Homo sapiens: one gene and its partners. The protein of the gene in region 2 purifies or fractionates together with the protein of the main gene of each other region. This does not show direct contact. Each region holds a gene or a part of one and is shown on either strand. Other genes may lie near its edges.

Region 1 (3,945 bases), on a different chromosome or scaffold from region 2:
TGTGGAGGTGCGTGGAGGTATCAGTGGAAAGGTCTTGGGGAATAGGAGGCAGCCAACATAGGGGAGTTGGGGAAGATGCCCACGATGTTGTCAGTGTGGGCAAGACACTGGGGCTGGGCTGGCTGGGGCTTTTGCCATTTTGGAAGTTCTGGAAGGCAACAGGCAATAGATGGGGGCTGCCCAGGAGGGAGTCACCATCCTCCCTAGAGAGTTCAGTCAGCAAACCGTTACTGCATAAAAGGCACCTCATTTTGCAAAGGATCCAGCGGATGACCAGAAGGATCCAAATGATGAGATAGCCTATCCTTGAAGGTGCTGATGGCACCTCCTGGAGGTGCTTTTTTGACACTCTTGCCCCAGGCAAGTATTCCCCTTGCACTTTGTATTTCTCTCCCACACTTAGGTATCCTTCTTGTCACAGTCTTCTCTGTCCAGGGCTGGACTGTCTTACTCTTCTTTCATGTCCAATATCTGGAACATTCATTCACTGAGTACTTCTTCCCACCCTGCTGATCCCCAGCCTGATTTCCTGGGTGGTCAGCGTTGGGTTTGAGATGTCGTCTGAAGTTGTAAGCAGAAATAATGTAGCTGCTGAAGGAATAATGCCTGGGGGTGGAGATCTGGTGAGCTTTTAGTGAGCATTAGGCAATGGAAGGTTCTAAAAGGCCAGCAGAATTCTTTGAAAAGTTCATTTAAAGCCCTTTGTCCCAAGGCTGTAGGCTGCAGAGTTCTTCCAGGTCCACCTCCTCCACTTTGTGACATTTCAGCTTGCGAGGAATTAAATTGTCGTTAAAACACATTTCAGTTCTAGGCATGAGTTCAAGGTAGCCTGGCGTTCCTCTCGCCCCTGGCCATGAGAACTTTGAAAGGGCTTTGGCAGCACTGGTTGGCCTGGCATGAGGAGCTCATAGCTTGAGGCTCATGCCCCACCTGTCCATAATGTTCTTATTTTCCCATCATGAGCATGGACTTGGGTTTGTTACATGTCCGATACCATTATGGTCAGTACTATGCAGATGACGAAGCAGCCCTGTCCCCCGTCTGACTCCCATGGCTGCTTCAAGGGCAGTGTGGTTATTTGCTGGGCAGTGGCATGGGGCTTGTGCATTTCTACTGTCACTACAGAGGGTTTAAAAAAAAGACATGGGCAGGTTAAGTGGAAGGGAACAGTCTCACACCACTACCTTTATTGCTTCTTGGTACTTGGGTTTTCAGGAAATTCCTATCAGCAGACATCAAAAACAGAGAATGAAGGGACGCAGTTGGCATGTGCCTGTGGTCCCAGCTACTTGGGAGGCTGAGGTGGGAGCATCGCTTGAGCCCAGGAGGTGAAGGCTGCAGTGAGTATGATCACGCCACTGCACTCCAGCCTGGGTAACAGCGCAACCCTGTGTGTAAAAATAATAATTTTTTAAAAAGATTAAAACCAAAAAAAAATTGTAAACAGAGTTCAACGTAACTTACAGATTAAAAACAGTAAAATATGACAGAAACTGAGAGGTAGTCATGATCAGATATGGCCTCCTTCGGGTGCCGACATCTGAACTGAGACCTGAATGATGAAAAGGGCCAACACTGCAAAAATTCAGGGAAGGAACATTTGGAACAGAGAGAACAGTCAAGTACAGAGGCTCCCGGATGTTCAGGGACAGTAAGCAATGAGAGAATGAGAAGACCAGAAAACTAGGGAGGGGCCAGATCATGTAGGGCCTTAGAAAGCCATGGTAAGGGTGTGGTAAGAAGTTTGGGTTTTATTCCAATAGCAATGGGGAGTCACAGGAGGGTTTCTGGTGGGTACAGCAATCTGCTTTGCACTTTAAAAGGCTTGCTCTGGCTGGAGGTGGAGAGGATGAATTATAGAGGGTAGGTATAATCACAGATATAACCTCAGTGAGGCGGCTGGAGCGAGTCCAGACCAGACCACGGAGGAGCAGGTGAAGCCAATGGATTTGGGATATGTTTTGGAGGCAGTGTAAGCAACGCTTGCTGAGGACCTGGATGTGGTGGTGAGAATCACCCCATCTCGAGCAACATTAACTGAGGAAAAAATTGAAAAAGGGGCGCCCTTGCTTGGGGGCTTCCTATTGTGGAACTGTTATGGAAAGGAGCCCCATCCATTGCTTCCTCCTTGAATGGCAAATGCCTTTATGATCCCTATAACTTGTCCCATTATGTTTAGACCCTTGGTGGTCAGAAGGGTTCTATTTAGGGCAGTGTCCCCTGCCCCTCCTTGTCCTCCAAAAATTTTGGGAGGCACTGACGTGGATGTCATGGGGTCAGCACAGGCATCAACATCCCCAGAGGGATGGAACCAAGCAGCCTATTGCCCAGGCATTCACTAACAGGCAGCCCATCCTCAGCCTCATAGCTGGCCGGGGAGAAGAAAGGCTATTTTGGGTCCCAGATCTTTTTTTTTTTTTTTGAGACAGAGTCTCGCTCTGTCACCCAGGCTGAAGTGCAATGGTGCGGTCTCAGCTCACTACAACCTCCGCCTCCCGAGTTCAAGAGATTCTCCTGCCTCAGCCTCCTGAGTAGCTGGGACTACAGGTGCGTACCACCAAGCCTGGCTAATTTTTGTGCTTTTAGTAGGGACGTGGTTTCACCATGTTGCCCAGGTTGGTCTCAAACTCCTGGGCTCATGCAGTCCGCCTACCTCAGCCTCCCAAAGTGCTGGGATTACAGGCATGAGCCACTGCACCCGGTCTCTGTTTACAAATTTATCACCAGCTTCATCCCCTAAGGTTATAAGCTCCATGAGGGTGGGAAGTCTGTATTGTTCACCTCTGTATCCTAAGCATCTAGAACATAGCCCGGCACACAGTAGGTGCTGAAGAACTTGAATCTGTTAATGTAGAAAGGATGTTTCATCTAGCTGAAGTGTCTTGTACAGAATAAACTCTCAATAAATGAACTGTGGACACATGGAAGGGTGAGCTAGAGCTCTGCTCAGGGGTTGAGTGCTCCTCTTGTGCCCTTGTGGTTGTCTGGTTACCTGAACTAATTGGAGTGCGATGCAGACATAGTCATGGAGTGAGACAGCAGAACTTTGCTGTCTTGTTTGTGAGCCCACATCAGGGGTTCTAGACTGGCTGGTTGACATGGTGGCCCCAGCCTGTCTCTTCAGCAGCTCGGCTTATAAAAAATAACCACCACCTACTGGGGAAAACTGCTGGAACCTTCAGATTGCCAAATTGTTCTTGGTGTCTTTTCCAGAAATATTTGCCAAACTCGAATTAGCCTTCAGGAGATTTGATAAAGCTCATGTTTAAGTCAAGAGACCAAAAGATTTTGATGGGGAGAATTAGGGGCTGGATATAGAGGGAATACTTAACCTGTATAGGGGCAGATATGGTTGTCCATGGAGATTCTGGTGTGAAAAAGTACGATGGCGGCCGGGCGCACTGCCTCACACCTGTAATCCCAGCACTCTGGGAGGCTGAGGTGGGTGGATCACCTGAGGTTGGGAGTTCAAGACCAGCCTGAACAACATGGAGAAACCCCATCTCTACTAAAAATACAAAATTAGCTGGGCGTGGAGGCACATGCCTGTAATCCTAGCTACTTGGGAGGCTGAGGCAGGAGAATCGCTTGAACCCAGGGAGGCAGAAGTTGTGGTAAGCCAAGATCGTGCCATTGCACTCCAGCCTGGGCAACAAGAGCGAGACTCCGTCTAAAAAATAAACAAAAAAGTACGATGGGAGAAAGGGGAGAGGGCAGTGGGGCCTGGAAACCTCATGACAAAGAGAATGAACACAAGAGGGCCTGTGGTCCTGTAGACTCTGTGCTGTGCACATCCCTCATGTGAGCATGGGCCATCCAGCTGCAGGCCATGGTGTGACACACTCTGCAGATTACAGTCTAGGGCTTCATGTTCCATGTGCTGGAGGTAAGGCTGGGCCTCTTGGAGCTTTCCAATAGCACCAACAAGCTGTCAGCCCTGGAGGA
Region 2 (4,451 bases):
TTGATACTTTCCTATGATCTGGAGAGAAAGAGATGGGGGTGGGTTGGGCTTTCTGGTAGCTCTGTGTCTCCCTAGAAGTCTGGAAGTTTCCTAGATCCGAAGCTGGTAAGAGGTCAGCTATGAGGAGCTGACTCTGGGACAACTCCTCTTGCTTGTGGGGAGGGAGCAGGATGGACAACGGGGAGGGGAGGGTGTCAGCAAGGAAATGGAGCTGTGTTTCCTGGATGGCCGCGGGTGGAGATACCATCCTGCTGACCCAGCTGCAGGGTGCAGGTCTCAGACCTTGGCTTCGCCCCCACCCCTGCCATCCCCATCCGCCTTCACTTATCATGGCTGTGCATAGGATGCACAGCTAGGGAACGTCCTGCTGGGGCCGCCTGGTTCCTTGGCCTCTGGCCTCTTGTCCCCATAACCTGCATAGTGAGCTGGAAGATCAACAAGCTCACAAACGCAAAAGGAGTTTTGTGAGGTTCCTGCAGAGTTCACTGTTTCCAGCCAGAGTGATTTATGAAATGAATGTGTCTAGTTTCCTCTGCCGAGCACCTCTTTAGCCTCAGCTCCCTTCCCAATCCCAGCTGGAAGTGCAGATTTTTAAAAGATCCAGAGTCCATGGCTATCTCTTCCATTTATTTCACCTTTTTTTCTGCATTGCTCCTTAGACACAAGGACCGAGACAAATAGTACAACACTGAGGGCCTGCTCTCTATCGCTCCTGATCCTGTCTCTCTCTCCACACCTCAGTATTTTAAGATAGATTCAAAATTGACCACGAGTGCTTTGACCCTCCCCTCTACATCCCCCCAAATCTCCCACCTATACTCTCACCTGTGCCTTTTCCTTCACTGTTGGAGGAGTCTGGCCTCTACCTCAGCTGGGTGTAAGAGGCTGAGTGGGAGAGATGGGGGAAGTATTTGGAAGCAAATGGTGTGCCTGAAAGCTCAGGCTTGGCTCAGGGTGGGGGGCTGCTGCAGCAGGCTGGCTATCACCCTTGGTGATGATGATGGAATGCTGGGTGGAACAGGAGGAAGAGGAGGCGCATGTGCCCGCCTTGGTCTGGTCCTTAGGAAGGTAATGGACTACAGCATTCAGGAGCCGGCCCCGGAAGTGTGGGCTGAGAAAGTTGTAAAGGATGGGGTTGATGACACAGTGCAGCATGGAGAAGCAGTCAATGACATCATAGAAGAAGTAGAGCAGGTGGACCAGGTGGCAGTGGAGGGAGATGTGGGTCCCATGCAGTGTGAGCAGCAGCAGGGTCACATGATAGGGCAGCCAGCACATGACAAAGACGGCCACGTAGGCGCACAGCAGCAGGCAGTGGCGCCGGCTCTTGGGTTGTCCTGGCTGCCGCAGCCGGCAGGCTGTCAGCACATTGAAGACTGTGATGAGAGGGAAGGGCAGCAGGAAGCCCAGGATGGTGGTGGACAGGGCCACCGCCAGGGCCCAGGTGCTGTACGTTTCAAAAGGTGCCATGAAGAGGCACATGGGCTCAGGGCCCTCCACCAGCTGGATGTGGACCACCTCAGGCAGCGGGATGATGGCCGAGAGGACCCAGATGCCTGCACACATGGCCCGCCGCACTCGGTGCTGGTAACGCTGCCAGGAGGGGGAGGCGCTGGTGAGGGTGACATAGCGGTCGACACTGAGGCACACCAGGAAGAAGATGCTGCTATACATGTTGACAAAGTAGAAGTAGTGAGTGAAGCGGCAGGAGAAGCTGCCCCAGAGCCAGGTGTAGTCCAGCGTGACCTCCAGCATCCACACGGGCAGAGACAGGACAATGCCCAGGTCCGCGATGGCCATGTTGAGGATGTAGAGGTTCATCAGCCCTGCCCGGCCTGAGCCGCGCCAGTTGACGCATATCACCAGGAGGTTCTCCACCAGCCCAACCACAAACATGGCCAGGTAGAGGGCAAAGAGGACCACGCGCTTGGTGCTCTGGCTGAGCTCCACGTGGCACTCAGACAAAGTGTGGTTGAAGAGGTCAAGCAGCTCGGTCCAGTTGTGGATCTCTCCAAGGTCACTGGTAGGCACTGCGGTGACCCCCTCCGAGGGGCCAGGCCCCCAGCTGGGTTTCACTGACATTGGGACCAGCACACGCCTATTGGGATGAAGGGAGGGTTGGAAGGGAAAGCAGACCTCGAGAGCCTTGTGTCCTCAAGGTAGAGGCCAGAGGGAGTCGGGGGCTTTGGGGAAAGATTCTGGGGCTAAGGCAAGAAAGGGAAGTTTAGCTTTCAAACTGTGAATAAATAATACACAACTCACTTGCTAGCTCTGACCCAAGAGCAGAGATACTTTCTTAAGGGGTTTCAGCTGGAAGAGGCCAGGACTGTTGGTGTCCACCAACATTTCTCCCCACCCCCAGCCAGTTCCCCCTCAACAACCCCCTCAATCCCCCCACACCCACCATTCCTAGGTGGTCTCCAACCTCCACCTCTCTCCTGGCACTTCATTCCTCAGCCCTTTTGCACAGATCTTTATTGCTCTTTTTCTGTCTTGTTATTTGGACCGTGAGTGTGGAACACACACACACACACGCACACCACACAATCTGATTCATCCCTAGGAAAACCTGTGGATCATGCAGGATAGCCAGTTGTCTCCAAGCCCTGATTCCCATCTTCCCTGGGAGAGGGCGACACTCACCTGAGTTTCCCTTGGGAGCCCCTCGGTCCTGGAGGGAGGGCCGGCAGGTCCAGGCTATGGGGAGCTGTGAGGAGGCTGGGGGGCCCTTGGCTGTGGGGCTGGCTTCCCTGCTGGCTTCACGGCCGCCCTTCTCATCCGGGAAGTAGCTGTCACTGCTGAGGCTCTGTAGGGAGGGATGGGGTTTTTCCTGCATTCCCCCAATCCGGTTACAGGGGATGTCCCAGCAAAAGACCCGGTGTGCCAGTGGCGGGGAGGTCATACTGCCAGCATTAAAATCCCAGCTCCTCCCTCACCCGCTGAATGAATTTACCTCTTTCCTCAGCCTCAGTGCTCTCCTCTGCAAAGTGGGGTCTATTATCTACTAAAAGGGATGCTTTGAGAATTAAAGGAGCTGTTGAGGGAGGGAAAGTGCTTAGCTCAGGTGGGGCCTGTGGCAAATGCTTTACGTATGTATGTATTTTCCTCTCCCTAAGTCAGCTTGGAATCCCTCTCTCCCCTGTCTTGATTCCTACTAGAGTGAAATTGGATGTGGGGGTATAGGGGAGGGTCAAAATAAATCTGAACATCAGTTGGGCTTTTAATAACTCTGGCCCACCCCTGCCATTCTCCCCAGCCCCTCACAGGGCTGTGAGCTCCCTGCCTTCATCTTGTGATTGGAGGTGAGAATCTGGGAAAGAAAAGATTGAATGGCTGGGCATGGTGGCTCACGCCTGTAATTCCAGCATTTTGAGAGGCTGAGGCAGGAGAATCGCTTGAGCCCAGGAGGCGGAGGTTGCAGTGAGCTGAGATCAGGTCACTGCACTCCAGCCTAGGTGACAGAGTTAATAAAAAAAAATAAAAATAAGATTGAATGCGGGGTGTCAAGGGGGCTTTGTCAAAGCTTCAGGGAGATTCCTGAGTAGGGAGGGAGAGAGAGAATGGCGCCCTCCCCCTGTGGCTCTATACTTCTCTGCGTGAAGGGTGTGGTGGGTGGCTGGCAGGGGATGAGCAGGGGATGGGGCGTGGGGTAGGGAGAGCAGACTTCTCTCTCCCGCCAAGCTAGAGGGTAAGGGACTCTAAGCCACGTGTTATGGGTAAACATTTTGTGTCAGCAGAGCTTCCTGCCCTTCAGAGCGCTTTCACCTCACTTCATCTCGTTGGATTCTGGAGATACCCCTGTGGGGAGGATGGATTTCTTCACCCTCTTTGAGGCCCAGAGAAGTTGTCTGTTACACAAGCCACACTTGGCAGATGGCAGAGTGGCCTAGGCCTGAGCCAAAGGTGTGTCGGCTGGACGGGATTGAGTATATATTAAGTCGAGGTGAAATTCCCATAGCATAAAATTAACCATTTTAAAATGTGTGATTTAATGGCATTTAGACATGCACATTGTGCAAACACCACCTCTGTCTACGTGCTAAACATCTTCATTACCCGCAAAGAAAACCCCATAACCATTAAGCAGTCAATCCTATTCCCCCCACCACCAACCTTCTGCTTCCTGTCCCTGTGGATTTACCTATTCTGGATACTTAATAGAAAGGGAACCATATCATATGTGACATTCAGTGTCTGTGTTTTTTTTTTTCCACTTAGCATGTTTTCAAGGTTCATTCACTTTGGAGCATGCATCCGTACTTCATTTCCTTTCATGGCTGAGTAATATTCCCATATATATATATATATATATACACACACACACACCACATTTTCTTTATCCACTCAAAGAGAACATTTTTTAAAAGTTTGCTCACTGATTCTTTTATTATGGTAAAATATATGTAAGGTTTACCACGTTAACCATTTTTAAGTGTACAATTCAGTGGCGC
Region 3 (3,945 bases), on a different chromosome or scaffold from region 2:
GCATAGATAAAGGAATGAAATTATCTGATGGAAATGTTTTGAATCATAGAATAATTAACTGAAAGTCAGGAAAATTTAGCTTGATTTGTTAAATTAGGTCATCATAAGTTCTTAGTGAAGTATGTTTACTTACCAGAAGAATGTTGATATTCTTGAATACTTCTTTTAGTGAAAAGTGTATCTTTTGCTTTCCATAAGTTCTGTAACTAGTAATGACATGCCTATTATTCATGGGTTTTTGAATTACCTGTTCTTTATATATTGCTTTCTCTTCAGTGTTGCCCTGGAAACTGTCCACCTTGTGATCAAAACTGTGGACGGACTTTAGGATGTAGAAACCATAAGTGTCCATCTGTCTGTCACAGAGGTAAACTTTAATAATAGCTATGATTTTATGTTTGTAGTGATGTAGTGGTTTTTTTTTTCATTGTCAATATTCAATATAATGTATTGAAATAGCGTTTTATAGTCATTATCTCACTTGACTCTCTTAACCTGGAGAAGAAGGTAAGGCAGTTTGCCAGTGTCTCTATTTTATAGGCAAAGAGGTTGAAGCTTAAGAGGGTTCAGTAACTTACTCAGGGAAATGTCTAGTACATTTGAACCCAGGATTTCTGTATATAAAAGTATTGTCCTTTCTATAACACCATATTGTTTTCCCACTTCCTGACTTTCCCCACATAATTTTTTAATCAATGAAGGTGTTCATAGCATTTTGAACACCTTATTTATTCTGAATTTTATATACTTATTTGTAGTTAAATCTAGTAAAGGATTAGATATGTCCGAAGCTGGTGATTTTTAAACATTTTGATGTCATGACCCCTTTACAATCCTTTGGTCCCCAAAGGGCTTTTGTTAATGTGAGTTTTATTCATTGACATTTATTGTATTTGAAATTAAAATAAAATGTAATAATATTTATTATTTTTTAAAAATAGCAGTAATAAACCCATTATATCTTAATACAAATAATGTTTTATGAAAAATAACTATTTTCTGAAAAAAGTAGAAAATTTTACATTTTTACAAATGTCTTTAATGTCTAGCTTAACAGAAAATAGCCGGATTCACATATATGCTTCTGTATTCAGTCTGCTATGGACATCACTTTTCACTAGCTTCTGGAAAACTATGCATGTGAGACCTTGCAGACCTCCTGAAAGGGTCTCAAGAACCACTAGGGTTCCTGGACTATACTTTGAGAATTATGTTATAAGTTATTACTAGACATTAAAAACTGAGTTAACTTCACTCATTTGGATTATGTTGATATGAAATGGAATCTACTGAGATATGGTATACAGTATTGGAAAGATCGTGGACTTAGAGTAAGAAATCCTGGATTTAAGCCTAGACTCTGCCATTTAGTAGTTTAATACCTAGAACAAACTACTGAACTGTTTCTCAGTTGATCTCCCTATCCTTTCAGAAATCCTGCAGCATATAGGGATATGTGGAACAGGCCGGGAGACTATTGGCCCAAGGTTAATAGAACTAGTCGCAGAGTCAGGATGTGAACCCAGTGTTTATGTTATTTCCATTATACTACATTCCTTCCCCATTAGGAAAAGTGTCAGATTCTATTTACCCTGTAGACATTTCCTGTAGGTGTTCTTTGATTTGTCAGTGAAGTTTAGAAATAGTTTTTCAGGTATGCTCTCACCAACACTAGAAAGATTTTATTTTCTTTTATAGTCATTACATCACTGACCCATTGAGTTTTTGCAGATTTTTGCAAACTACATCTCTGTGATATAACTGGTTTAACAGTAGTAAATCTAATATTATGTAATTTACCACATTAAAAGACCAAAGGAGGAATGAGATCATCTTGATAAATGTCTAACATCTATATAAGATAAAAATTTAATTGGAAATAGACATATCCTTAACCTGATAAAGAGTATCTGCAAAAAGTTTAGAGCAAATATCATACTTACTGGAGAAGTGTTGGAAGCATTTCCCTGTCTCATATTTTTGTGAAGCAAAGCCCATAAATATTTCAGTATTTGTCTCTAAAAGATGGATTCTTAACCTAAATGTAGTTAACATATTTCTTCATATCAGCAAACATCTGGTTTTCAAATTTCTTGTTGTCTCATAAGTAACTTCATTTTTTACATCAGTTTATAGACTCAAAAACCTAATAAAATTGACATGTTGTAATTGGTTTTGTCTCTAAAGTCTTTTAATTTATAATTTCCATCCTCTATCTCCTTTTTTCCCCTTATGACTTATTTGTTGAAGAAACTAGGTTGCTTTATTTAGTTTCTCAGAGTCTGAGTTTTGCAGATTGCATCTCTGTGGTATTATTTAACATGTTCCTCTGTCCTCTATATTTTTGATAACCTGTTAATTGGATCTAGAGGTTTGATCAGATTCAGGTTTTGATATTTTTTGGTAGAGTGGTGTTTTTTTGTTTGTTTTGTTTTTATAGATTTCTATTAATCCTTAGAAAAGCTTATTAGTCACAACAAAATTTTCCTTGATGTAAAGTATGTGGAAGATGCTGTTGTGCAACTGTCAATATTTGTTTCATCTACAGTTATAAAAGAATGTGGAATCATAATTTCATACCATTTTTCCATCATTCTAGAATCCTTCATAATCAGAATTATACAGTAATTTATAGGGGGAATATACTAACTGCATGTTTGTGTTGTGGGTATGTGAAAATTTGATTTATAGTTTTGTTTTGTTCTTTGAGACGGAGTCTCTCTCTGTCACCAGGCTGGAGTGCAGTGGCGCAATCCCGGCTCACTGCAACCTCTGACTCCCCATTTCAGGTGATTCTCCTGCCTCAGCCTCCCGAGCAGCTGGCATCACAGGCATATGCCACCATGTCCAGCTAATTTTTGTATTTTTAGTAGAGCCGGGGTTTCACCATGTTGGCTAGGATGGTCTCGATCTCCTGACCTCGTGATCTGCCTGCTTCGGCCTCCCAAAGTGCTGGGATTACAGGCATGAGCCACAGCGCCCAGCCGATTTATAGTTTTTTTTTTTAAATTCAGGATCATCTGTGTTTATAGTTTTAGAACTACCCGAATCATGCCTATTTTGGCTATTAACTGGTATTGGTCAGTATAGTTATAGTCTCCCTATGCTATTTCTTCATTTTGAAAGTATTATGGAAGCTCTTTTAATTATAATAAATTCTGTTGGTCAGTAGGGAGACTGTTTAGAGAAATTGTCCCTTATTTTCAAGATGTAATTTAAATGTGATACTGTTGTTTAGAATAACAAAAAGGTTACGTTTGATAACAAAAAGGTTCCTCTGCTGAAGATGAATGAAAAATTGTCATTGTTAAGTATAGAAACAGATATAATATGCCGAATGAGAACCGACTTAAATATCACTATCAACTTTAAAAATACAACTTGTAGTCATTCTTTAGGTAAAATAAAAATAAAACTTGATATGTGGGTTAGGATAACTTGACTTGCATTAACATCAAGAATATATGTGTCAAAACACATTTGGTGTTTTGTATAATAAATGTTATGTTTGACCCTACGATGTTTTACCTCTAATCTTCTCTTTTTCTGTGTTCATTATTTGAATTATAATTCTTAATTTGTGTTTGTTTTAGGGAACTATTTTGAACTTCTAGAGGCACTTAAGCCAGGATATTGTCCATCTTTAATCTTTTTTTTATCAGGTTAACTCCCGGTCCATGTTTTGCTTGGTCCTGACACCTAGGCAACAGTCTCTTTAAGATATTCATTTCTTCATTGAAAACTCTTCTTCCTTTATTATTTCATTTCTGATAGAGTTCCTTACTGGGAAAACTAGAGTGGAAGAAAGCCCTTAAGATGATGACAGAACCTCTTGGAGCGAACTTTATAGCCTGCTTTAAAGATTTCTTTGATTTTGTTTTTTTATATTTTTGCCAACCCATAACAAAAGAGCGTAAAAAGCTGAAACCAAAATAACATTTTTTT
Region 4 (3,945 bases), on a different chromosome or scaffold from region 2:
AGGCTGAGCGGAGACTTTTACTCTGTGATTGACAACAGTTCCTGGGCAATCCTAGATCAGTAGTCAGAAAACCTTAACTGGAAAAGAGAATGCATGGCGTTTTCATTTCTCTGAGGAAGCCGAGAAACTTTAATTAGGTGACGGGGTTCCGAGCACTTAAGCAGATGGGGTGCGGTGAAGGCCCAGGGAGGAGGAGGGCAGGGAGGTGCACGTCCTCTGTGCCCCACACACTTTCAACCACTGCAACAAACAAGCACCCAAGAGAGGCTGTGCGGCAGAGCCCTGCACCCACAGGCCTTTGACAGCACAGTGAGGGGCCTCCGCACGTGGCCTCGGGACGCTCACTCGACGCACACCCGGTGCATCACACTGGCACCTAAAGACAGGCCGTGCAGCTAAAAGGAGCACGTGTGGCCAAGGAGAGCAATCAGCTGTCCCGCGTTTCTAAAGGCAGGGACCGAGGCTGTGGAGGGGCGAGCAGGGCAGGCCGGCGGAGGCTACTTGAGCAGCTTGGCCACGTTCAGGCTGGGCACCACAATGTCCTTGAAGAGGGGCACGTAGCTGGGGCTGGCCTGTGCTGGGCCCTGCTCCAGGGTCTCCATGATGGTCTGCTTCATGTCACGGCTGGCGTCCCCACGCACAGCCAGCAGCGCACCGATGTGGTCATCCCTGGGGATGGGGAGATGTCAGCCCATGCCCACTTAGCAGCCCTGTGATGCACCACGCTGCCAGGGACTCACGGCTTCACCACCCCAGCTGACAGAACACAGGGGGTGAGGACCGCTGCAGACAAATTGCACCTTTCCCTTTTCAGCGGGAGACAAGCCTGCATTTTCATCTTACTCTGTCTTTTCTCAATCCAATTGCAGAAAGATTTTTCAACACTGCTTTTATAAATCTTTGTTCCGGCCCAACCAGAGGGGAGACCGTGGAGAGCTCAAGACCCCGTTTTTCCACGTTTAACCAGCGAGATGATGGGACGGAGGTGACGCGGCTGCAGCCATGGAGGTGGCCCCTTGGGGAAGTGGCAGGTGCCCTGAGACAGGGGCCGCAAAGGCTGGCCTGGGGCCTGGAGCCAGCATGGTGGAGGGGGGACGTGCGTGGGTCCCCTTCCCTGGACCTGGTACTGGGGACTCCCTGTAATCACGTCCTCGGAAGGTGTCTGGTCCAAGCTGCACTTGGGCCCTCCCGAGTCCACCATGAGCACAGAGGAAACTTCCTAAACTCGCCCCACTGAGGCCACTCCACAGCCCAAATCTTCCCCACCACACACAGCAGAGCTGTCACAGCCCCGCCCCCACCCCACTGTCCCCACCCGGGATGTGCCCCTCGAGCTCCACCCACCCACACTGTAGCCCAGGCCAGGTGGAAGGCAGCACAGAAGCAGCTCTGCTCCCTGCGCCTGGGCCCCGCTGTGCCGCACCTGAACCCTTGCCGTGCTGCAGGGCTGAACTTGCGAACCAGGAGCCCCACCCGCCCCAGACAGAAGGAGGGACCTGCCGCTCCACTCCAGGATTCTAAGGCAGGATTCTAAGACGTGCATCCCTTACCTGATGTCTGGATACTTGCTGACCAGAGTGGAGACCTCCAGGTAGAGCAGAGAAGGGTCTGTCAGCTTGATCACTTCGGCCACAGCCACGATGGTGTCGCAGTATCCGTCCACGTCTTCCCCGAAACCCTGGAAGGCAGCAGCAATGTGAGGAGCCGCCCTCGGCTGTCCCGCGGCGCTGGGAGCAGCTGGATTCTGGCTGAGCCCCTTCCTGACTGGGAACCTCCCTCTTCACCTGACTCCTCAGGATCTACTCTGAAAGCTCAGTGACAGGGCCAGGGGTCTGGGGTGAGGGCGAGACCGTGGGAGGCAGCCAGCACCTCGCAGCGCAGGACAGACTGGGAAGCGTCCGTCAGGGAGCTGTGGGCGGCCTCGGGAAGCCGGCGGGGCCGGCGCGTCTACCTCTGTGGACATTCGTGTCCAACCACAAGGTCAGGCAGGACCTGGACCCAGGCTCCCCCCGCCTGACAAACACACGACACACTCCCATCTACTGGCCCGAGTCCCGGGGTGGAGGCTGAACAGGGCCGCGGAGCGACAGGCCTTCTCCAGCCCGGACCTGCGCGACACTCACGGACGCCAGCTTCCGGAACAGGAAGCGCAGCTGCTCTGCCTCCCTAACCATCTTCTCGGCACCCTCCTTGCGCTCCTCCGGGCTCCGGAAGGAAATGCGCTTCTGCATGACCGCCCGCAGGTACTCCACCACCACGCGCCGGTGCGCCTCGGCCGTCATCCTCTGGGGAGACACGCGCGGTCAGCGGCAGGCTCCACGGCTCTGGCGGCCAGGAGCACCCTCATTGAAACCCAGGCTGGGGCTCCCGGTGGCTCCCCGGAGGCTCTGAGCCCACTCCTCCTCGCTCCGCCACGGCTCTGGCATCTCACCGCAGAGGAGGAGCGGGGGCTCAGTGGGGGAACAGTGACGGTGACCTGGACCCCCGCACCAGGCCAGCTCCGGCCCCCAGCAGGACAGACGCGGGCGAGGCAGTGCCGCGCATGAGCACTCGGTCCACAGACAGGCCCGTGTCAGTGGCTGCTGCTGTCCTTTGATAACGACCGCAGCATCTGGAAAACGCGGCAGGCACTTTGGAGGAAAGAGGAACCTGGGTCCTGCAGGAAGGAGGGTCTGAAGCGGAAAGAAATCCCTGGGGCCTCAGGGAGTGAGTGGAAGGCAAGGAGCTAAGACGGGGCACGCGGGCCTCTCCGGGAACCATGGCTCCCTCCACCTCGAGGGCCATGCCACAGGGCCCCGGCCATTCTCACCAGAGCCCCGTCCCAGGGAGGTGGCGTCCGCAGAGCCTATTGCCTCCCTTGGGCTGATAGGACAACAAGTGAACGTTCACTCACGGAGGGACTCGCTGGATGCTGAATTCTGAGCAGGGTGAGAGGTGAGCCCTAGCGTCAAGGTGATGAGGGAACTAGGTCCCACCTTCTTACCTTCTTATACGGCTTTTTAATTTTGGCAAAATCGTTGAAATAGTCTTCCACGGTGACACAGATAATGTCTACAGCGTTTGACCCTAATAGCCACTTCTTCGTCATCAATTCATTCAGATGTTGCTGAAAAGCAGAAACAGATCATAGAAATCATCACCTCAACGTCCCACGAGAGCCGAGTGCATGTGGGAGGGAGGCACTTCCTCACCTCAACGCCCCACGAGAGCTGCGTGCAGTGTGGGAGGGAGGCACTTCCTCACCTCAACGCCCCACGAGAGCTGCGTGCAGCGTGGGAGGGAGGCACTTCCTCACCTCAACGTCCCACGAGCACTGAGTGCGTGTGGGAGGGAGGCACTTCCGTGCATCTTTGCTACGTCACACTGCTTTTCTAATTACAACAGCAATGCGCACTCAGGTAAAAATTTGATTATATAATCTGCAAATGTGTACTTTAAGTATAGGAGATTTATACTACAATTTCTGTGATGAGCTTCCCAAAATGACATGTTAAAGATGGAAATATCTGTGCATGTATACATTTTACCTTTAGTGGCTACATATATTTATCGTATTTATTTGCCCAATTCTCTATTGATGGACATTTAAATTTTTTTCACATTTTGCAATAATGCAACAGTGAATCTGTATAATTCTGATGAAATTCCTTAAAGTTGAATTTTTCAGTCAAAAAGTATACACATTAAAACCAATAAAAGTATACAAATTAAAACTCCAATAAAAGTATACAAATTAAAACTCCAATAGAAGTGTACAAATTAAAACTCCAGTAAAAGTTACAGATTAAAACTACAATGGCTGTATTTCCAAGCTGCCCTCAAAAACCCAACCCAGTTCAGGCCCACACAGAATACAAACAGCCCCTTTTTCCCACACCCTCAACAAGCCTGAACAGCATCCACGTCTCCGGCTCCTGCCATCCTGCTGAGCAGCAGGTCCTGTTG
Region 5 (3,945 bases), on a different chromosome or scaffold from region 2:
GTCCTCCTAAGGGCTGTGCAGGGCAGACCACAGATGCCTGATTCTGAGCGGCCCCTGTGCTGCCGCGTGGGGCTGGGTTAGAGCTCCAGAGAAGGAACCATCAGGAGCCTGTGGCGGGCATCCAGCAAGCGGTGATGGCGGCTTGGACCAGGCTGTTGGCAGTGGGCATGGAGAGAAGTGGGTCCCTAAAGAGGGAGTCAGGAGGCGGCTTCTTCGGGATTCGATGAAGAGCTGTATGTGGTGGGAGGGAACGGGAGCCAGAGGATGTGCACTGGCTTTCTGGTTTTGAACAACCAGGCAGATGTAGGTGCTTAATGAGATGGAGCCAGGCGGGGGCAGGTTCGAGGGAGGGCAGTGGGTCAGTTGGATGGACACGCGGGGTTGAGGAGCCTGTGGGATGTTGGCTCTGGGTCTGGAATGAGGAGAGACGCCTGGGCTGGAGGGATAGAAGTAGAGCCTACCAGCATGACAACAGTGCTGGAATCGAGGGTGGTGGGTGAGGCCTCCACCCTGGCGGGGTCCAAAGACAAGCAGCCAGGGTGGTGAGGGCAGATCCGGGCCATGTGTGATCAGGGTGGGTGGGGGGCATCCACAGGGTCAGACCCTCCTGAGAGGTCACACTCCATGAGATTACAGAGTATCCATTAGTGTCTCAGGCAACGTAGCCAAACCCTGTCCCCAGAGAAGGGATCCAGGTGACAGGTGAGGGGAAAAAATGAGAAAGACAGGTCCACAGCCGCAACAAGATGTGGGATCAGGAGGGGCTTTTATTTATGTATTTGTCCTTGTTTTAAATGGGAGAGACAGGGGCTTGCGTAAATGCAGTAGAGAAGGCACCAGGAGAGATGTCGAGGACGCTGACAGGACGATTTTGGGAAAGTCTATGAAGAGGAGGGGGGACCAGAGCACAGACGAGGGGATCAGCCTTGGCACGGGGAGACCCCTCCCCACTTCAGTAGGTGGAAGAGGAGTGGGGTGGGAGGAAAATGCTGCTGGGGGTAGGGTTCAGGGGTAGGAAAATTGAAGAAGTTGTTCCAATGGCTCCTGTGTTCTTGTGACTGAGCAGACAGGAGAGAGTAGGGTGGGGAAGGGGCAGGAAGTCAGAGGTCTGAGGACACAGAGAAGGGGTGAGACATCCAGGGGAGAATGAGAGGTGAGGAGGCTGAGCAGCACGTGGTCTGGGAGTGCAGCCGGGCCTGTTCACCAGGAGGTGCTATGGGCCAGTACAGGGAGGGCCACAGATCCTTTCTTCTGGGGTTTTGTCAGGTTGGGGGTGAGGGGGGCTGAGAGATGGGTGACAGCACGGAGGAGCAGAGGACCACGGGATCCACGCTGGGTTGGAGTGAAGGTGGGAGCTAAGCTGAGGGGAAGGCACAGACCCAAGAGGGCCCAGGAGGTGTCTGCATTGAGCTCACAAGAAGGCGAGGGCTGTGGCCAGAAAGCGGCGCTTCTGAATCTGTGATTTCACCATGGACCTGCTTCAGGCAGGGCCCCAAGAGAGGTGGAGGAGAGGTGAGGGCTCCTGGAGACAAGTCGGGGAAGTGAAAACAAGAGGCCGGGGCTGTTGGGGCTGCGAGGGCTGGAGACCCAGGCTCTTAGAGCAGGAGGAGGGGGTGACCCGCCTTAGGCCCTGGAAGGTGAGAAATGGGGTGGCTTCCTTCCAGAGCCCCAGAGTTTGAGGAGGAGACTCTGTGGGAGTGGGGCTCCTGTCTTGGGGGACACCATTCAACGCACACCAAGATTAAAGCTAGCAGGACCTCATCTCATGCCCACAGCGGCCAGCCTTGTCATGGGTGCTGGGATGCTCCTTCCCCCACCTCTCACCCTGGGAAACCTGCAGCCTGGGACTCCAAATGGAGCCATGGGCTCTGGGTTGCCTAGTAGCCCTGAAGAGGGAAGGCGGGTATTTCTCAGTGGTCTCTGACATCCCTGTCCCAGCCCAGCACTCCCTGAAGCCATTGCATCTGTCTGTGCAATCAGCCTGAGCCCAGGGTCCTAGGCCAGGGCCAGAGTCACCCATGTGTTTATAGGTACCTCTGTGCTTCTAGTAGCTGTCATAACTCCACCTGCCTGCACAGAGAAGGGACCCAGGGCAAAGAAAATACTGATGCAGAATCAGAGACCCTCCCAGTTAGAAGGATTTTCAAGGTCATCCAGTTTACCTTGCTACTGACTTTGCTGGGGAAATGGTGGCCCAGAAAAGCCATGGGACCAGCCCAAGGTTGCAGAAGTCAGGTGCCGATAGGAGAGGAAACACCAGAGGTCCACACTCCAAGTCCAGGCCCCTAGGAAGTGCTACACCTGATCATTTCCTGTGGCTGAGTTTCTCTCCCTAGTCAACCACCTTACCTACCTTGGGACAGCCAAGAGAAGAGGGAGCTGGGGGCTGCACTGTGGTGGGTGGTAGGAAACGGTCTAGAAGAGCTGTAGGTCTTTGGCAGGTGTTCCTCTGGGGCATATAATGGGGAGATGCCTACCATTCACCCACCCAGGCCTCCAGCTCTGGCTGCAAAGCAATGATGGAAAGTGAGCCACCCTGGTCTCACAGCTGCTGCAGGTCAAAGCCCAGGCTCCCCTCTCCCCACATGCCTACTTCAAATAGACATGGGAGTTAGTTCTTCTGCATATTTAACCAAAGTCCCTCTTATTGCAATCCAAGCCTCTTTCTCTAGATTGGGAAGAAGATAGTCATTGCATGTTAAGTCTTTGTTCCTCTGGGAAGGGAGGGTACAGGCATGATTTTCAGAGCTCCCTCCTCAGCTATGTGGATCCCAACAAGATGCAGGCTAGCCTGGGCATTATGGGGTGTTTTGAGCCCTGTTTGGGACCCATGGCACCAAAGCCTTCAGCCAACTTGCCGAGAGGGCCTTGTTTCCGCATTCACTCTCCCAATTAATTCTCCCTAACAAGGTGCTTCTTCTGCCATACAGGGATCATGTCTCACATCCCAGAAGCCAGTGGGATTTGCCACAATAAGTCTGGACTTGCTTGGGCTGACCCAGCCTTGCCAAAAGCCACCAAGGTTGTCAACAGAAGTAATCACTGGAACACCAATTAACTAATCAGGGGACTCGGAGGTAGAATTTAGGAACTAGTTCCTAGAGTGGCTGGCCTGCAGTGATTGTTGTGGAGTTTCCAACTCACTAACCCCAGAGATTGAGGCAAGGACTTCAATCCTTCCTTCAGTTCCTGGGGGAGAGTTTTATCTGCTCTTTTCAAATTAGTAGTTCTGCTTATTAAAATGGTACTGAGGGTCAAACTGCAAATAATAATAATGGCTACCATTTGCCAGATATCTATTGGACCAGGCAGCATGCTGGGAGCTCGGTGTACCTTACTGTATTAAGTCTTCCTAATGCCCCTTAAGTCTAAAACATTGAACATCAAGAGATGATTCCTAGACAGTCAGATGGCTCTGGGGAGAGAGTTTGGCTGGAGATACGGAACCTTCAGTGTATGGGGGGGAGTTGAAGCTGAGAAAGGGGATGTGGTCCACTATAGGAGGAAGAAAAACCATCAAGAAGGGGAAGAAGCAGCCAAGGGCACAGGGAGAACCCAGATGGAGTAACTTCATGGAAGCTGAGGACTTGGGCGATTCAAAGAGGAGGGGCTGTCTCCAGAGTGGGTGAGTGCAGAGGGGACTAGGAGTGGAGGAGACTTAGGTGGCATAGCTAGACATGGCAGTCTAGGAGGCAACATGGTATTCAGTTTCTTCTTTGTTCAGATGATTGAGCTCAAAGATGGGGAACTGTGGGAGAACAGCAAAGAAACTGTGAGATGGAGGTTGGGGGGCTTGGAGAGAGGGCAATGATGGGGAAGGAATGCCCAGAGCCCAAGGCGGGAAGGCATGGCCTCTATGGAGTCCCTGGGTCCAGTGAGTAGAGGGGGCTACCTGGCTGTGGTGGAGAAATGGGGGCCTGGATCCTGAGAATTCTCCAAGGTAGG
Region 6 (4,375 bases), on a different chromosome or scaffold from region 2:
CACAGTGCAGCTCCAGGGCCAAGCACAATGAGGAGGGGGCAGAGTCCAGCTCTGCTCACTGCCGCCTCCTCCACTCTGGCCTCTGGGCTGGGCCTGGGTTCAAGATGGTTGGGGCAGGCTCCCTGCACCTCGCAGACCCTGCTGGAGAGAGAAAGGGAGAGTCAGAAAGGACACCTCAGGGACAAAACACCCTGGGAGAAGCCAGAAACCGGATGGCCCCGACTGGGGTGCCTGTGAGCAGAGGGCTGGTGGGTGTGTGCAAAGAGCCTGGCAGGAGTGAGCCACAAGCAGAGCAGAAAGGGGTGCCCTCTCCTGCCTGCCTCACAGCCTCACCTTGCCACGGGGCCGGAAGAAAGGAGCTCACACCCAGAGCCCAGCCCTAGGTGAGCAGGAAGTGTCCGTGAGGGGAGGAGGCCCGAGCTCAAGGAGTAATGAGGAAGCGGGAGAGGAAAGGCTGGGCTGGGCCAAGAGCAGCAGGAAGCTGGAGGGAGGGGAGGCTGTGAGGCTGACAAGGGGGTGCGCTAGAGGCCAAGTCCCAGGAGGGCAGGCAGAGCAAGGCCTGACGCAGACAGCAGGGAGAAGAGCCCAGTGTCCACAGCCAGTGGCCGAGCCCTGCTGCATCCCTAGGTCTGAGGGACAAGCACACATAGCCTGCAAGTCCTGGAGACCCAGGAGCAGATAGACTTTTGGTCTCAGCCTCCAGCCCCATGAAGGCCTCACCTCTCCATCTACTGCCCCTCTTCCCAAGGAGACCCGACCTCCACGGCAGGGACAGGGACTCACCAGGCCTCTCCCACGAGCTCTGCACCCATCCCACACCAGCAGAAGTACAGGAAAGCCTTGCTGGTTTGCAAAGCAAGAAGGTGACTGCTCTCCCCTGCCTACCCCCAGGTGGCGGCTTGGCCCAAAGCTGGGACTACCCTCATCTCACACTAAAAAAAATCTCAATTCCCGGCCGGGCGCGGTGGCTCACACCTGTAATCCCAGCACTTTGGGAGGCCAAGGCAGGTGGATCACCTGAGTTCAGGAGTTCGAGACCAGCCTGACCAACATGGAGAAACCCCATCTCTACTAAAAATACAAAATTAGCCGGGTGTGGTGGGCGCCTCTAATCCCAGCTACTCTGGAGGCTGAGGCAGGAGAATCACTTGAACCTGGGAGGCAGAGGTTGCAGTGAGCCAAGAATGTGCCATTTTACTCCAGCCTGGGCAACAAGAGCAAAACTAGTCTCAAAAAAAAAGAAAAGAAAAAAAAAGAAATCTCAATTCCCACGTCCTCCACAGGTCATGTAGCCATCCCCCTGCCTCCTGGAGAGAGGGTAACTCCAGGAGCCACACCTCCTTTTCAGGTAGGAGGTGCCTAGGCCAGCCTCCCTCACCAGCACCCCAGGCCCACAGCAGGCAAGCACCCCTCTCAGGAGGGCCACCCTCCTCCCCACGGCCCCTTCAAGGCCTCCGTGCCCGACCTTTGTCCATGTTGCTCCATGCCTGACTCTCGCTGAGGTTATCTTATCTCCCAGATGAACTGAGCACCCTGAGGGCCACGACAGTGCCTGCCCTCCCCCAACCCCCTCCCCATGGTGCCCCGTGAAGGAAAGCTCTGTTCTTGCTCACTGAGAGAGCAAATCATTGCCAACTACATGTCCAAAATCAGCCCACTTCTGCCTTGATAACCTCTAGGCCCTCAGCTGCTCTCTAAAACAAAGCCCTGAGGGCCCCTGGGCCAGGGTAAAGGCCATAAAGGGGGGATGGAGGGTGGCAAGGGGATTGCTCAAGGCCAGCTTGGTGGAGGAAGCCAATGCCCAGGCTGGCCAAGTCCTTCCCATCGGCCATGGTTCTCTCCCTCCACCCCTCTCTGTCAGTCATCCAGCTGAGCAGGGCACACGCCTGCAGGTGTGTCCACCACCCCCATACCCCACTCCCCACCTGGAGGATGGAAGTCCCAACACAGAACCCAACTCTCTGTCCCTACAACAGACGCTGGCTCTGGCAACATCGGCAGGGCTCCAGGCCAGCCTAACCACTGGAGCAATGAATGGGCCACGCAGCCACTCTCAGAAGGGTCTGCAAGGACAAGAACGCCTCTAACACTGCCCCTTGTCCGGGGCAGCTGCTGATTCCCCTGTCCTCGGACAGGCCTGGGCTCCTCTGGCCCCCTCCCTGGCAGGCCAGCCCTCCTCTGGGAGCCTTTCCTACCCGCAAGGCACCGCTCATAGCACCAAGAAGGAACCTATCACCACAAACTGCCCAGATCTTATCTGACTCCTTCCATATAAGGGGACACTGTCCAGGGCCGGGCCCCCACCAGCCCGCCCCTCGAAAAGCTCCTCAGGAGCCCCTGAGGATGCACAGACCCAAGAGGATCTGGATGCGGGACACCTGCCGGCTCCCCTCTGCCTGGCCAAGGCCAGCTCCAGAGCCCCTACCCAGTGACCTTGTCAGGTGACTCTCCCCAAGCCTCAGTTTCCCCACAGGGCCCATAGGGCACACCGATCCCCGCTTAGCCCAGGGCCCATGTTCTCGGACTCGGAGCTCGCGCTTCGGCCAACCCCGGAAAGTCGCGGGGCCCTTGGGTCAGAGGTTAGGGGGTCAGGCGCTCCGCTACCTCAGCTCCCAGTGGCCGCTGCCCACGCCGGCGTCTCCGTCCTTGTTGGGGGCCGGGGCTGGCGCGTCCCCCGCGGCTCCCACGTCGGGGCCCGCAGCGGCGTCCCGCACCTCCTCTTCCGCCGCCGCAGGCCCGCCGCCGCCGTGGCTCGAGGGCCGCGACCCTGTCCTCCGGCGCCGGGAGCTGCCGCGGTCGCCCATGGCCTCAGCCCGCACCCGGCCGCAGCCAAGCGTGGGCCCGCCGGGTTCGTAGCGCCCGAGGCGCGCGGCCCCACCTCCGGGCCCTAGACAACGGCCGCCACTGCCCCCTGCCGGCCGCCGTAGCCCGGGTGACCGCCTCACCAGCGCGTTCAACCCGCCCGCGTCGGGCCCGTCGGCCTCAAGGACAACGGCTGCGTTGCTCCGGAGCCGCTAACTAATGGACGGCCGCCTCTCTCGTCCATTTGTAGTCCGCGGCCGACCTGAGGCGGGGCCTGGAGAGGCTGACGGGGCGCAGGGCACCCTGGGAGTCGTAGTCGCCGCGGGCGCGCCGGCGCAGAGCACCCTGGGAGTCGTAGTCGCCGCGGCCGCACCGGCGCAGAGCACCCTGGGAGCCGTGGCAGCTCCCAGGGCCGGGGCTGCGGGCCGCAAGTGCGCGCAGCGGGAACGGACCTTGCATCGCTCCCGCGTGGTCCCGGGGTCCTGTCCGGCCCCACGGAGCGGGATGGTCCGCTGAGGGGTGCGCTGGGCCCCGACTTCCTGGCCGCTGTGCGCCCGCCCCTCGTCCCACTTGTGTACACACGGGGTCTCGGCGAGTCACTCCGGGCAATCATTTAGGAAGCGCCTAGTGCGCCACGGTCCAGCTGTCCGGGCCGGTGTCCGCGGCGGCTCGCGTCGCCCGCCACCCAGCGCGTTGGTTTCTGCGCACGCAGCTTACAGTAACGTCCCTGGCGCGCTTCTGCTCCGCGAGCCCTCTGGTTACCCCGGCAGGAACCTGCTTTTCTTCGCCTTAGGGGGACGTCAGACAAGGGCCAGGTCAGAAGACCAAGCTGGAGAAATGCACCAGGCCCTGCGTCACCGGGACGCCTGCCTTGCACGCGACTCCCAGGCTCTCCACCTCCCCGCCTGCAGAGCCCGGCGAGAGGAGGGCGAGGGCGAGGGCGAGGGCGCAGGCCCCTTGGTGGTGTCTTCTCAGCCCACCCACTCTCTCCACAAGGAGCTCCACGTCCCTCAACTCTCAGGGCCTCCCAGTTTCCAACGTGGGCCAGCCTCTCCAGGATGTCAGAAGTCTGGGCCGCTGGATCGCCGGGACTCAAGAGGCTTCTGTGCATTTGCACGGCCTGTGCAACCGCCCTGTTGTTTTTTGTTTTCTTTTTTCTTTTTTTGAGACAGTCTCACTCTGTCGCCAGGCTGGAGTGCAGTAGCGCGATCTCGTCTCACTGCAACCTCCACCTCCTGGGTTCAAGCGATTCTCCTGCCTCAGCCTCCCGAGTAGCCAGGACTACAGGCGCGTGCCACCACGCCCAGCTAATTTTTCTGTTTTTAGTAGAGACGGGCTTTCACCATATTGGCCAGGCTGGTCTCGATCTCCTGACCTCGTGATCCGCCCACCTCGGCCTCCCAAAGTGCTGGGATTATAGGCGCAAGCCACCGCGCCTGGCCTGTTGTTATTTTTTCTAAAGATGGGGGTCTCGCTATTCTGCCCAGGCTGGTCTCGAACTCCTGGCCTCACGCAATCCTCCCACCTCGGCCTCTGAAGGTGCTGGGATTACAGGTATGAGCCACTGCCCCAG
Region 7 (3,945 bases), about 55 Mb from region 2:
AGCCTAAGAAACAGAGCGCGATCCCATCTCAAGAAAAAAAAAAATAGTATAGTACAGTAATTCTAGTGTATATATATATATACTTTTTTTTTTTTTGAGACAGAGTCTTGCTCTGTCTCCCAAGCTGCAGCGCAATGGTATGATCTCAGCTCACTGCAACCTCTGTTTCCCGGGTTCAAGTGGTTCTCCCTGCTCAGCCTCCAGAGTAGCTGCAATTTCAGGTGCCCATCACCATGCCCCGCTTATTTTTGAATTTTTAGTAGAGATTGGATTTTGCCATGTTGGCCAGGCTGGTCTCAAACTCATGACCTCAAGTGATCCGCCCATCTCGTCCTCCCAAAGTGCTGAGATTAAAGGCATGAGCCACCGCACCTGGCCAATTCTAGTATATTCTTATCAAATGACCCTTGATATGGTTCATTTGAAATAAATAACATTAGAAGCTCCAGTCAAGCAAAAGACAAAGTAGAAGGCATCACTATTTTGTTCACATTTACCCATCAAACATTTCCTGAATGACTGAGCCAGCCTGCAGAGCTAACACTGCAACAGTGAAGTGAAGAAATCCCAGACCTGGGGTCCTGGAATCCAAGAGCCCCATAGAGGAGACATGAACATATCCCACTGCAAACAAAAATATCTCGGTGAAGGTGAAACTTAATGGGAATTGGCTATCCAGGAACATTCTGCCCAGGTTGCAAATGAGGTTGGAGAAGTCTTGACAGAAGAGGACTCTTGAAGTTAGTAACAACCATGAGATTTACTGAGTGTTCAAAAGATTCCAGTCATTGCTGAATAATATCCCCTTAAATTTGCCATTAAAAGCATCAGTAGGATTTGAACAGGCAGAGGAGGCAGGGAGGAAACACAGCTTGCAAAGGCACAAACATGCAAATGTGCCTGGCATGCCTGGGGAGCATCAGGTAGTCCATAGCAGGAAAGCTAAAACTGAGAGGAGCCCTGAATCCCAGGTGAAAGCTTCTAGACTTAATCTAGGGGACCACATGCAGGCATTCAAGATTTTCAAGCCAGGGATGAAAGGAACAAGATCTATGCTTTATTTTTATTTTATTTATTATTTTGTGACAGGGTCTCACTTTGTCACCCAGGCTGGAGTGCAGTGGTGCAATCTCAGCTCACTGCAGCCTCAATCGCCCAGGCTAAAGAGTTCCTCCCACCGCAGCCCCTCAAGTAGCTGGGACTACATCCATGCACCACCATGCCCAGGTACGCTTTTTGTATTTTTCGTAGAGACAAGGTTTCACCAGGTTGGCCAGGCTGGTCTTGAACTCCTGTGCTCAAGCGATCTGCCCACCTCGGCCTCCTAAATTGCTGAGATTACAGGTGTGAGCTGCTAAGCGCAGAAGCACGATCCATGTTTTAGAAAGGTTAATTCTGGAGCTGGGAGGAGATTTTGTAAAATCCAGAGAGCCAGAGGCAGAGGAAGTTAGGAGGCTGATGACATCATTTGGGTGAGAGAAGGCAAGGGTGGAGGCAGTGGCAATGGAGAGAAGTGAATTGGTTCTTAAGATATTCTAGAGAAAGTCAAGAAACTTTCTGTCCAGTGATCTTTATGTTCTTCCCTGCTGCCTTTTTTTTTAGAGACAGGTTCTCTAAAAAAGACTGTTGTGCCAGTCTGGGGTGCAGTGGTGCAATCCTAGCTCACCATAGGGTCTCACTGTGTTGCTCAGGTTTAGTCTTTATGTTCTTTGTAGAAGAACAGATTCAGCTATCTGCAGAGCAAGAATATTTGGGGGTGGTAAGGAGCAGGGGGAGTGGACAGTCTGGAACAGCCCCTGAGGTAAACATGACAGAGATACGAGTGAAGGAACAGAGAGATAAGAGTGAAGGAACAGAGAGGCTCAGGCGTAGCACCAATGGCCCAACTGAGGCTGGAGCTCAGAAACCAGCTTGTGCAGCCAGTTAGCACGGCTGAGTAATTTGGTCAGCAGTGCTGGAAAGCCTAGACACGCAGGCATAGAAAACCTGTGCCTGGGTTGATTTAGGATGGAGAACTGGCCAACCAGCCACCACAGAAGGTCAAAAGGAGAGGGATGGCTGCCTGGCCCTTTGTCCTTCCTGCTGGCTGGCATGAGAATATGATAGCAGGAGGCGACACAGCCAAGACAGACCACAATGTAAGAGTGGAAATGAAAAGTCACAGCAGAGCAACATGCTATAAAGAGTCGGAGTCCCTGATACCACAGAGTCGCATCACACAGTGCCCCAGACCACATACCTGGGCTTTTATGTGCAAGAGAAAGAAACTTCTAGCTTGTTTCAGTCACTGTTTTGTTAGGTTTTCTACTGCTTGAAGCCAAAACGACTTTAACTAATAAAAACTGAACTGAGTAGAAAAGAAGTAAAACCAGGAAGGGGCTGGTAAAGAGAAGACCAGAGACCAGAGGGCTGACCCTTACCCTGTCAGTCCAGAAGCAGGTTTAGAGGGAGTGGGGTAGAAGGGAGGAAGGCTGTAATCAAAAGGGGAATTTCAGCATTCTAGATTTCAGAAGTAGAACAGTTCCCAAGAAGAAGTGGTTAAATTCTTTGGGATTTTTGGTTGTTTGTTTTTGAGTAAGGGTCTTGCTCTGTTACCCAGGCTGGAGTGCAGTGGCATGATCACGGCTGACTACAGCCTCAACCACCTGGATTCATGTGATCCTCCGACCTCAGCCTCCTGAGTAGCTAGAACTACAGGTGCCTGTCATCATGCCCAGATAATTTTTAAATTTCTGCAGATACGGGGTCTCACTATGTTGCTCAGGCTGGTCTTGAACTCCTGGGCTCAAACGACCCTCTCACCTCGGCCTCCAAAAGTGCTGGGATTACAGGCTTCAGCCACTGTGCCCTGCCTTGGTGGTTAAATTCTAATCACAGCATTCATGGCAGCTCATCATTGATTGAGAATTTAGGATGCACTGAGCAATCACTGTGCTAAGCAAGTGCTTCCCACGGATAACTCTCCGCCAAATCCCAAGGAGGAAGGCACTACCATTAGCTCATTTAATGATGAGGAAAGTAAGATTTGGAGAAGCTGAATCATGCGCCCAAGACACTCAGCCCCCTAGTGGTGCTTGGAATTCGACTCGAGAGCCAGAGCATGGCCTGCTGGGACACACTGCTGCCCAAGTGTTCCCCTCTGCCTTCCCGATCACCCTCCATTCTCCCACCACCACTCTAGTCCCACAAAGTGAAACAGAATCAATAGCTCACCTGCAGCGACTCTCCCTGGAGAAGGAATGAGAACTCCGCCCATGTCGAAAATCACCGCTCTGTAGGTGCTGCCTCCAAGGTGTGTCCATCGGTGGGACCCCTGGTGCCTGCGCTGGGTGTGTTTCAGGAAGGCTGTTCTCCACACCCACTGGAGACGGGGGGACTGGAAACAGCTCCTGACACACATGGTGAGGCTGAGGCTGTGTGGGAAGAAGGCACAGGGCGTTACTTGCCTGCACTGCCTCCCAACCAGGCCTCCATCCTGGAGCTCAGAGGGGCCAGCCAGACATCTCTAACCCATCTCCAACAGGCACTTCGAATCACACCCACAACTGACCTCAGTGTCTCCTCCCTCCCTGGCTACTTAGTCAAGGGCTCCATCGCCCACTCGGCTGCCCAAGCTAGAAAGCTGGGACTCGCCTCTGACTTTCTGCAATCTCTACCTCACCTCGCCCTATCTAGTTCTGTGCTGTCAAGTCTTTCTCCTGAAAATCTCATCTACCTCTTTGCATTCTCACTGCCACCATCTTGCCCATGGATCCTAACTGGCCCCCTTGCCTCTTCTCAGACCTCTCTCCAATTCTTTCTTCACCCTCCAGTCAGAGTATTCTTTAAAAATTGTAAATCTGGGCCAGGTGTGGTGGCTCACTCCTGTAATCCCACCACTATGGGAGGCCAAGGCGGGTGGATCACCTGAGGTTGCGAGTTCGAGACCAGCCTGACCAACATGGA

The links.
Region 1: the proteins of ACKR5 (region 2) and FADS1 purify together in Homo sapiens (co-immunoprecipitation; 2 studies listed by BioGRID and IntAct, with this or other methods). This does not show direct contact.
Region 3: the proteins of ACKR5 (region 2) and NFXL1 purify together in Homo sapiens (co-immunoprecipitation; 2 studies listed by BioGRID and IntAct, with this or other methods). This does not show direct contact.
Region 4: the proteins of ACKR5 (region 2) and EXOC3 purify together in Homo sapiens (co-immunoprecipitation; 2 studies listed by BioGRID and IntAct, with this or other methods). This does not show direct contact.
Region 5: the proteins of ACKR5 (region 2) and SFXN5 purify together in Homo sapiens (co-immunoprecipitation; 2 studies listed by BioGRID and IntAct, with this or other methods). This does not show direct contact.
Region 6: the proteins of ACKR5 (region 2) and DGAT1 purify together in Homo sapiens (co-immunoprecipitation; 2 studies listed by BioGRID and IntAct, with this or other methods). This does not show direct contact.
Region 7: the proteins of ACKR5 (region 2) and ACAD10 purify together in Homo sapiens (co-immunoprecipitation; 2 studies listed by BioGRID and IntAct, with this or other methods). This does not show direct contact.

Annotation. Positions count from the first base shown.
Region 1 is NC_000011.10:61,806,813-61,810,757, reverse strand, and holds part of FADS1 (acyl-CoA (8-3)-desaturase), read left to right. Parts: coding exon 1-7; intron 8-3,945.
Region 2 is NC_000012.12:56,992,841-56,997,291, reverse strand, and holds the start of ACKR5 (G-protein coupled receptor 182), read right to left. Parts: upstream 2,801-4,451; 5' UTR 2,644-2,800; intron 2,099-2,643; 5' UTR 2,083-2,098; coding exon 868-2,082; 3' UTR 1-867. UniProt on the Homo sapiens protein: Orphan receptor.
Region 3 is NC_000004.12:47,887,035-47,890,979, reverse strand, and holds part of NFXL1 (NF-X1-type zinc finger protein NFXL1), read left to right. Parts: intron 1-276; coding exon 277-367; intron 368-3,945.
Region 4 is NC_000005.10:463,451-467,395, reverse strand, and holds the end of EXOC3 (exocyst complex component 3), read right to left. Parts: intron 3,107-3,945; coding exon 2,984-3,106; intron 2,286-2,983; coding exon 2,124-2,285; intron 1,679-2,123; coding exon 1,551-1,678; intron 670-1,550; coding exon 498-669; 3' UTR 106-497; downstream 1-105. UniProt on the Homo sapiens protein: Component of the exocyst complex involved in the docking of exocytic vesicles with fusion sites on the plasma membrane.
Region 5 is NC_000002.12:72,956,660-72,960,604, reverse strand, and holds part of SFXN5 (sideroflexin-5), read left to right. Parts: intron 1-3,501; coding exon of another isoform or gene 3,502-3,625; intron 3,626-3,945. UniProt on the Homo sapiens protein: Mitochondrial amino-acid transporter. Transports citrate. Does not act as a serine transporter: not able to mediate transport of serine into mitochondria.
Region 6 is NC_000008.11:144,323,833-144,328,207, forward strand, and holds the start of DGAT1 (diacylglycerol O-acyltransferase 1), read right to left. Parts: upstream 3,021-4,375; 5' UTR 2,805-3,020; coding exon 2,605-2,804; intron 1,550-2,604; exon of another isoform or gene 1,486-1,549; coding exon of another isoform or gene 1,466-1,485; intron 1,421-1,465; exon of another isoform or gene 813-1,420; coding exon of another isoform or gene 784-812; intron 397-783; exon of another isoform or gene 175-396; intron 142-174; exon of another isoform or gene 129-141; intron 1-128. UniProt on the Homo sapiens protein: Catalyzes the terminal and only committed step in triacylglycerol synthesis by using diacylglycerol and fatty acyl CoA as substrates. Highly expressed in epithelial cells of the small intestine and its activity is essential for the absorption of dietary fats.
Region 7 is NC_000012.12:111,692,165-111,696,109, reverse strand, and holds part of ACAD10 (acyl-CoA dehydrogenase family member 10), read right to left. Parts: intron 3,414-3,945; 5' UTR 3,401-3,413; coding exon 3,214-3,400; intron 1-3,213.